Regions from separate parts of the Homo sapiens genome. Here all the other regions are linked to region 3. The links come from fine-mapping of genetic effects on gene expression. A gene starts in region 3. Each other region holds a variant in brackets. All regions are shown on one strand. Distances are from middle to middle. Region 1 has its middle 9.1 kb from the start of AIM2. Region 2 overlaps IFI16 (interferon gamma inducible protein 16). Region 3 holds the start of IFI16 (interferon gamma inducible protein 16).

The links. PIP is the estimated chance that this variant, and not a neighbour inherited with it, causes the effect. A credible set is the group of variants that fine-mapping cannot tell apart.
Region 1: its variant is the best candidate, but not a certain one, in a credible set for the expression of IFI16 in whole blood (INTERVAL, PIP 0.88).
Region 2: its variant is the best candidate, but not a certain one, in a credible set for the expression of IFI16 in whole blood (INTERVAL, PIP 0.72).

Annotation. Positions count from the first base shown.
Region 1 is chr1:159,084,500-159,087,268 of GRCh38, forward strand. It overlaps a transcript of AIM2 not described here. Among named protein-coding and RNA genes, the nearest start is that of AIM2, 9.1 kb to the left of the region's middle. The variant C/T (reference allele first, on the strand shown) is at 1,367.
Region 2 is chr1:159,048,580-159,051,348 of GRCh38, forward strand. It overlaps IFI16 (interferon gamma inducible protein 16), which reads left to right. Exons shown (of 12, transcript NM_001376587.1): 9 at 853-1,020. Among named protein-coding and RNA genes, the nearest start is that of AIM2, 27 kb to the right of the region's middle. The variant AT/A (reference allele first, on the strand shown) is at 1,685.
Region 3 is chr1:159,008,455-159,011,223 of GRCh38, forward strand. It overlaps IFI16 (interferon gamma inducible protein 16), which reads left to right and starts at 1,453. Exons shown (of 12, transcript NM_001376587.1): 1 at 1,453-1,707. RefSeq lists an enhancer at 1,310-1,389.

The sequences.
Region 1 (2,769 bases), 76 kb after region 3:
GGTGGCTCATGCCTGTAATTCTAGCACTTTGGGAGGCCAAGGCGGGGGAATCGCTTGAAGCCAGGAGTTCAAGTCCAGCCTGAGCAAAAAACGGCGACCTTATCTCTCCAAAGAATTTTAAAAATTAGCAGGGCTTGGTGACACATGCCTGTAGTCCCAATTACTTGGGAGGTTGAGGCAGGAGGATCACTTGATTGTCTAGGAGTTTGAGGCTGCAGTGAGTGGTGATCAAACCACTGCACTCCAGCCTGAGTGACAGAGCAAAACCCTGTCTGAAATACACACACACACACACACACACACACACACACACACATACAGACACACACACACATCCCTCAGAGATCACTGGAGAGTCTGAAGGACTGAAGGAACAAGGTCAAGACTAAACTCACAGAAAAAACAAAAATGTGTTTCCCACACCTTCTCCCTCCACCCACATACACACACACCAAACCAGGCAACAAAACTATTCTGGATAAGTTCACTGTTTCTGCTCCCTAAACATATAATGCCAAGACCTGACTACACTGCAATTGCTAAATCTACAGAACAAATGCCACTTCCGTATGTACTTCGCAATTGCTGCTATTGCCTAAAACCCAGATGTCTGAAGCCAGCCGCATCAGCAAGATGGAAACTCCATGGAGAGCCAGGTTCTCATGTTGATGACTTCTAAATCAAGCCTCCCTTGGAAGCATCTGACAGGGCAAGCCTAGGTCACCTGTGTCCATCTGGGCTGCAAGAAAAAAAAAATGAGAATCTGACTCCTGTCTTCTGAGTTGGGGACGTGAGAATTATTACATGTGAATTATTTAAAAGGTTCTGGGAAGGTACAAATGTGACACATGGCCACTAAAAACTCATTCAAGAGAGATAAGGATTCCAGAATTATTCCCAGATTTCTGGCTCAGGAAAGTAGGTGAATGATAGTGTCATTACAGAGACAGGGAGTACCCAAGGAGGAGTAGGTCAAAGTAAGTGAGGAAAATGTGGGTTTAGCGGTGGAGGTGTTGCGTTTGAGGTGCCCAAGAGATATGTAAATGGAGATGTTTAATTGAATATATAAGCCTGGAGCTTAGACGAAAGGTCAGAACTCCAGACAGTAACGTGGGCAGCATCCAAATACAGATGGCAGCTGATGCTGCAGAACAGGATGAGACTGTCAGGAGAGGCCATCATGAAGGAGAAGGGGGCAGGCCTCCAAGCCACGTAGAGCTCAGACAGCAAGTGGTTGGGCTAAAGAGGAAGAGTCAACAAGGAAGACTTACAAAGAAAGGTCAGAGCAGTAGAGAAAAGAAGCCAGACCTGGTGGAGTGCTGGAAGGCAAGGCAAAGAGTATTTCAAGGAAGATGGCACTCAGTGA[C/T]GTAGTGTGTACTTGAGTATCGCTAAGAGAGTAGATCTTAAATGTTCTAACACACACACACTATGTGAGGTGGCAGACATGTTTATTAACTTTATCATTTCATAATGTACACAAATATCAAAACATCACGTTGTATACTGTAAATATACAATTTTTATTTGTTGATTATACCTCAATAAAGCTGGTGGTGGAGTGTGAGGGGAAAGAAGGATAGGGCTCAGATCTAGCAAATCCTGTTTCAGATCTAGGAAACATCCAACAGATAATTATTTGCTTCCACCAGATTTTACCCATCATTCTATGATGTTTAATTTGGTTTGCTCTACTTATATTTGATATCAATGTACTGAAACAGGGAGCAGGTAAAAAGGCAACAAGGGTGAGGCAAAAATATTAATAAAAGCCAGAGAACAGATCCTAAAGCTCTTCCAGCTTCTGAACCACCTATCTTTGTCCTCGTTGTCAGTGTCTCTCCTCTTTCCACCTCATAAACATGGATGCTTTGTTTGTGACATGAGGCTGCCTCTGTTTTCCTGTTGGCCAGCTCATCAGAGCGCTCTGGGGCCAGGCCCTTCCTGGCCTCCCTCTGCCCACATACACTAGGCTCCAGGTGAATCTGCACATACCTCGCCCTCTACTTCTCCTCCCCCATCTGGCTAATTCTTACTCACCCCCAGGTCCTTCTTTATATCTCACTTTCTCCAAAATTGTTTTCAAATCCTGCAAGCCCAAGTCTGAGCTAAGTGCTCCTGTTGTTTATTTTCCCATCATCTCCAGGACTTTCCATCACAGCAATAAAGTGGAAAGAAGTAAACTCACAGGCTTGGGCACTACACCCGTGCAAGTTAAAATCCCTGCTCCACCAACCTGTGTGGCCTTGAGTAAGTCTCTTAGTCTATTGAAGGCTGTCAGTCCCTAATCCTAGAAGGTGTTGTGAAAATTAAGAGTTTACATGTTTAAAACACTAAGCAAAGTAACTGAAAGAAAGAACTCAGTAAACTCTATCCATTATTATTATGACTATCAATATATTGTTTTATGAGGGCTAATGTCTTGTCTGCCTTTTTCAGTGAAGTGTAAACTCCTTAGGGGCAGAAACTGAATCTGTATAAAATAATTGCAAACTCAAATCACCAAGACTCACCACCTTAAAACTCCAAGTGTACATTTGAAACTTTGTGCTACACATTTTTATTTAAATACATAATGAAAAATTCAACCTCTACATATCCTAAATCATTGATTGTCTTAGGACTCTAAGTACTTTCTCATTCTTACTTCCCTTTTACTGTTAATGGAACCACAACTCTCCCACTGACCTAGGCTCCCAACCCAACAGTCTCTACTTCTTCGCTTTTCCTTGACTCCTACACTACTCAATGTCCTTTATATTGACAATACTA
Region 2 (2,769 bases), 40 kb after region 3:
TTCTAATCAAGAAGCTGTTCTCCATGTGAGCTCACTACAAGCAGTTCTTTTGTGTACCTCTCTATCAACAATTGCCACTTAAAAAATTAGGTTACTGAATGGCAAAACTGCTAAAATAATGTGCCACATTGGCCAAATAGGGTGAATATTTTTTGGACTTCCATTAGTTTAATTAAAGGTAGTCAAGGTATGTGATTTTAGAGATATTCTCCAGTCTTACTTGAAAAATGTATAAAAATATAGCTAATGGGAATGCTTTAGGTGGAATATTAAATTGTTCTGAATACAGCTAAAAACCCTGAAAGATTCTGATAGCCTGATCCACACTGTAGTGATCATAGAACCTTCCCTGAGGAATTGTGAATTTGAGAGAATCTTCCTGTTATGGCTACGATCAGAGATCCCTAAAGGATGGAGATCTGGGTTTCTTGTATGCTGAAGAGCACTTGAGAGAGACTGGTTTGTGTATCTAATTGATGAGAAAGGCCTAGTTAATAAATGTCCATAAATGTAGCCAACTTTATTGCAAGCCATGCTGCCCCCAAAATAGCCCTAAGAGTTGTACCTGACCAAATAACTCAGTCCAGTTTTACAGGATGTGAAGACTGAGTATTCCATCCCCAGACAATGCAATTTCAGTTATCTGAGTTTTTAATCCTGACTGGGATGAGAGAAGGCTGAGTGATAGAAGTATCTGAATATGTGGTATTATTCCTCCTGCAACTCAGGGAAAAACAGAGAAACTGGCAAAGTGAACATCCTATTTAAAAAAGAAAAAAGGAAAAGATGTGTTTCATCTGATCTTGAAAAACATTAACTAGAAAAAAAGAACAAACATCTATTTTCCTTTAGAAAAGTGAAGACACAATCTCCAAAATGAATGACTTCATGAGGATGCAGATACTGAAGGAAGGGAGTCATTTTCCAGGACCGTTCATGACCAGCATAGGCCCAGCTGAGAGCCATCCCCACACTCCTCAGATGCCTCCATCAACACCAAGCAGCAGTTTCTTAACCACGGTACAAGTTCCCTCTTCCCAATACATTCCCCTCGCTACTATATAATGACAAGGATTAACACAACCGTGAAAGCACCTCACCAATCCCCTACTACATACAATGCTTTAATTTAACCAAATCAGTCATTTATTTATCAAGTGTGTATTTTGAGGTCCTATCCAAAATTAAAATTCTGTTTTTATCATCTCTATTCCATAACAGGTATAATTAGATGTTTGTTTAATTTTATTTTTCTTTTGGCTTACGTTTTTGTTTTTCCCTCAATACATCATGAAAATCATACCTTAAAGTAGAACAAGGTGGGAAAAAACAGAGCCACCCATAACACTATCACTGATTTTTCCCCTTTCATTTATTATAACTCAAACAATATGTTTAAAAATTTAGGAAAGGAAGGTACATAAGCAAAAATAACTTTTAACTGTCAGAAATCTCTATCTAATGCCACATTTCAGTACATGGTCTTTCTGATTTTATACCTTTCAGTATGTATATACAAAGAGTCTTATTTTCTCTCAGAGTAAATCACATTCACATATTTTTCCATAACCCATGTTTTTTATTAATATATCGTGAACTGCCATGCAATCATACAATATAGATTTAAATTATTTTATTGTACTAGAAAAATTGCACAGTTATTCCATACATTATAAAAATGATC[AT/A]TTTTTATTTGGCTTTATGTTGTTTCCAGTATTCTGTGTATTTACAACGAACATAATAAGATCACATGTCTCTCAGATCTTCTTTCATTGCCCTCAGAGTAGCTTTATAATTATTTCCTTAGGTTCTGTGCACCTTGTGTCAGGGTACTGATGTCATGGCTATTGTGAGGTGATTTGATACTGATTAACTTCATTGGGAATGGGTTTCCTAATGTTATGGAAAATTGGCCACATTGATGAGTTCATTAGAGTTAAGTCCATCAGAGTTAAAGCCATCACTCACAGGTGGCCAATATCATCTTCCAGGTCAGATCACATTGCTGGTCTGTGGAGGCAGCCGTCCTGCCTCCATGTTCTGGTCTCTAAGACTCCCTTGATCCCTTCTTGCCTCCATACCTCCTCTTCCAGATCAGCAGCCCCTCCAAGTCAAAGTGCTCTCCTACAACTCAGAAACAGTGCAGGCCACTGTGGAGACAGGAGGTTAAAGAAAAGTCCCCTCCCGCCTAATTTTTCACGTCCATGACTCTTTTTAGTTCCTGCCATTATTCAGATTGGAGAGCCTCTAACCTGGGCCCCTTCAGATTAGGAAAGTTTGTGGAGTCTTCCAGTGGCTGCCTTAATGATGTTTTTGCAACATAGTGCTGCTTCATTAGAAAGGGCTTTGCAATTTGGTTCTTTAAAATGCCCCTATCTACTAGAATGAGTTCCAACTGAAATCTCATGAAATCTAAGGTTTGTGGTTGAGACTATTCCTTACTCTGAATGCTAGTAATATGATTTTTTTCTCTATTTTTATTTTATTTGGTCACTGTCATATTAGGCAGGAGGGAACTTTTCTTTAACCTCCTCTCTCCACAGTGGCCTGCACTATTTCTGAGTTGTAGGAGAGCACTTTGAATTGGAGGGGCTGCTGATCTGGAAGAGGAAGTATGGAGGCAAGAAGGGATCAAGGGAGTCCTAGAGACCAGAACATGGAGGCAGGACAGCTGCCTCCACGGACCAGCAGTGCTCAATATGACCTGACCTGGGTAGAAAGGAGTAAAACTGAGATTCTTCTAAAATCTCATCTCTTTTGGGAGTCACT
Region 3 (2,769 bases):
CCTGAGTTGCCCTTATAGGTGACCGCAGTTTGTGTGTTGTATGCTGGAGTCCCAATTGAGGACATTACTGCATATAAAATGATTATAAGTAAAAGGCAGAAAATGTTCTGAAGGGTCATAACTTCCAAGGGTTCTCTACCCTTTGACCTCTGGATTGGGGTTCCCAGTGACTGCCTTAATATCCTTCTCTACCTACTGCCTTAAGGCCAACTCAATGTATCCACGTAAAGAGTACCCTAAAGCCAGTAAAAGATTATCACGAACACCCAGAGATGTTTATGGCCATCATTCCAGATCCTCTTTGCTTTTTCTTGACTTACTCCTTTTTTGATAAAGTTATTCATATGGTTTCAAATCCAGAATTCAGCTATTCACTTCATGGCCCTAGTTTGGATTAAAACAATCAGCTTTCTTTTGCTCTGTAGATGGCCTTGGACAGTACATATTAACAGTCTATGGGGCCCCTTTTCCACTCATGACCACATCCTGCTTGCAGATCTGCTGCTGGGTTAACACCACATCATCTGCTAGTTGATGCCATTTATTTGACATCCTGGGGTTACAGCACGCTAAAGGGCACCCACTGTCCTTAACAGAGAAAAATACACTGCTGAGCAGAGGATTAAACAGACTCCTCACACTACCGGAAGTTCAGTGCATTTTCCAGGATTTTCAAGTCTTCGATGCTGTCATGTTGAGAGTCCACTATCCACGTTTGTTTATCCAGGAATAATGCAGAAAATCTGAGCATTCGTGAATCTAATCATTGAGGTAAAGTAACCTAGTCATGGTCAAGAGGACAGCTAGTGTTAAACTCCTTCATATAAATTTAAGGAAGGATTTACATATTCATAATGACTTTCTGATCTGGAAAGCCCAGGCTTGTCAGTTATTAATAATTGGATGAATACTTCAGGTAGTATTTAAACAAATAGCGATTTCATAGCAGACATTTCCCCAACCAGGAGATGCAGTAAAGTATTGGTAGCAATAGATGCTCCTACCAAGATCTCCTCCTGCCACTGCCACTCTGTGCACAGGAAAGGAGGGGAGAAGAAGCCATGTTGCTTCTCTTATATTTGAGCATCATTTAAGGGAATATAAGTCTCTAATGACTCACATGTAAGTCTGCTGGGTAAGAAAGTTCTAATGTTGGAACTCCTTTCAGCTATCGAATTTTGTAAGAAAAAAAACTTATTTGTGTTTATATACATTTATGAGATACAAGTGTAATTTCGTTACATGGATATATGCCATATTGGTGAAGTCAGAGATTTCAGTGTGCACATCACCCGAAAAATGTTAACTGTACCCATTAAAGTAATTTCTCATCCCCCATTTCCCCTCACCACATGCTCCAGCCCTTGCCAGGAAACTGTTCATTTTCTCTGACTAACAGAAACGAAAGCTAAAAACACTGGTGGGAGGAGTCTCCACATTGTTTCCTACTCCATTTTCTCTGGGGCAATAGCAGAATAGGAGCAAGCCAGCACTAGTCAGCTAACTAAGTGACTCAACCAAGGCCTTTTTTCCTTGTTATCTTTGCAGATACTTCATTTTCTTAGCGTTTCTGGAGATTACAACATCCTGCGGTTCCGTTTCTGGGAACTTTACTGATTTATCTCCCCCCTCACACAAATAAGCATTGATTCCTGCATTTCTGAAGATCTCAAGATCTGGACTACTGTTGAAAAAATTTCCAGTGAGGTGAGTACTGTTCCTGATTTTGTAAATATGATCTTGTTCCTTCCTTGAAGTCCCCAGAATCACAAGGGGACAATCAGTATTGGTTATTCAGGGTCATGGGATGATGGGAGTAGGGCTGAGTATTCAGAAAAGTGAAAACTGAGTTGCTTGATATGAATCCTTCATTTACTTAGGAAGATAACAGGCATCTTCTATTCCACCACAACTGAGGACTGAACAAGAGAAAATGCATTTTGACCGTTGCAGATTTTAAAATTAATTATCCGAGTGTATACTGGCATAAGTTGGTACTTAGAAGAGGGCTTCTGTTATTTTGGCTGGAAGAAGTGTTGGAAACTCGGTAGCTGTGGTGGGTTCTCAAGATAGTGACATGAAAAAAGTATCATGAAAGAATATTAAGTAAAAAACATATCTGAGCATAGAGATGTATTATATGACATCATCCCAATTTTACAAAACATAAGAACAAATGTACACAGAGTAGAAAATTTTTTTCAGTTTCACAAACACAGTTACTCAAGCACATGGTGTCTTAATATTTTCATAAGTATATTGATCCTTTACTTTAGCTCCATTCTGCACCGGGTGCTAGCGGCAGAATTTCAATCATTTTGGAATTACTCTCTGCCCTCCTGAAAGTTAATGATTTTTTTTTTCCTTGTGGCAAGGTATAGGGGAGTGGAGGGGAAGGCAGTTAGGAAAAGGTTACTATTGTTTACTTTTCAAATTTTTAAAAGATGTTTTCTATAGCCTGGTACAATATTTCATGTGTGCTTAAATGGAATGTGAGATTCTTAAATGTTGTTTTCAGAATTTTATTAGATAAATGTTGTTAATTACGTTGTTCAAATTTATTATATCATTACAGATTTTTTCACCTTGTTCATTTAGTAATTGAAGCATAAACTGAAATCTCCTATTATAAAGTTTGCTTTTTTGGCCGGGCACAGAGGTTCATGCCTGTAATCCCAGTACTTTGGGGGAGACCAAGGCGAGCGGATCACTTGACGTCAGGAGTTCCAGACCAGCCTGGCCAGCATGGCGAAACCCTGTCTCTATTAA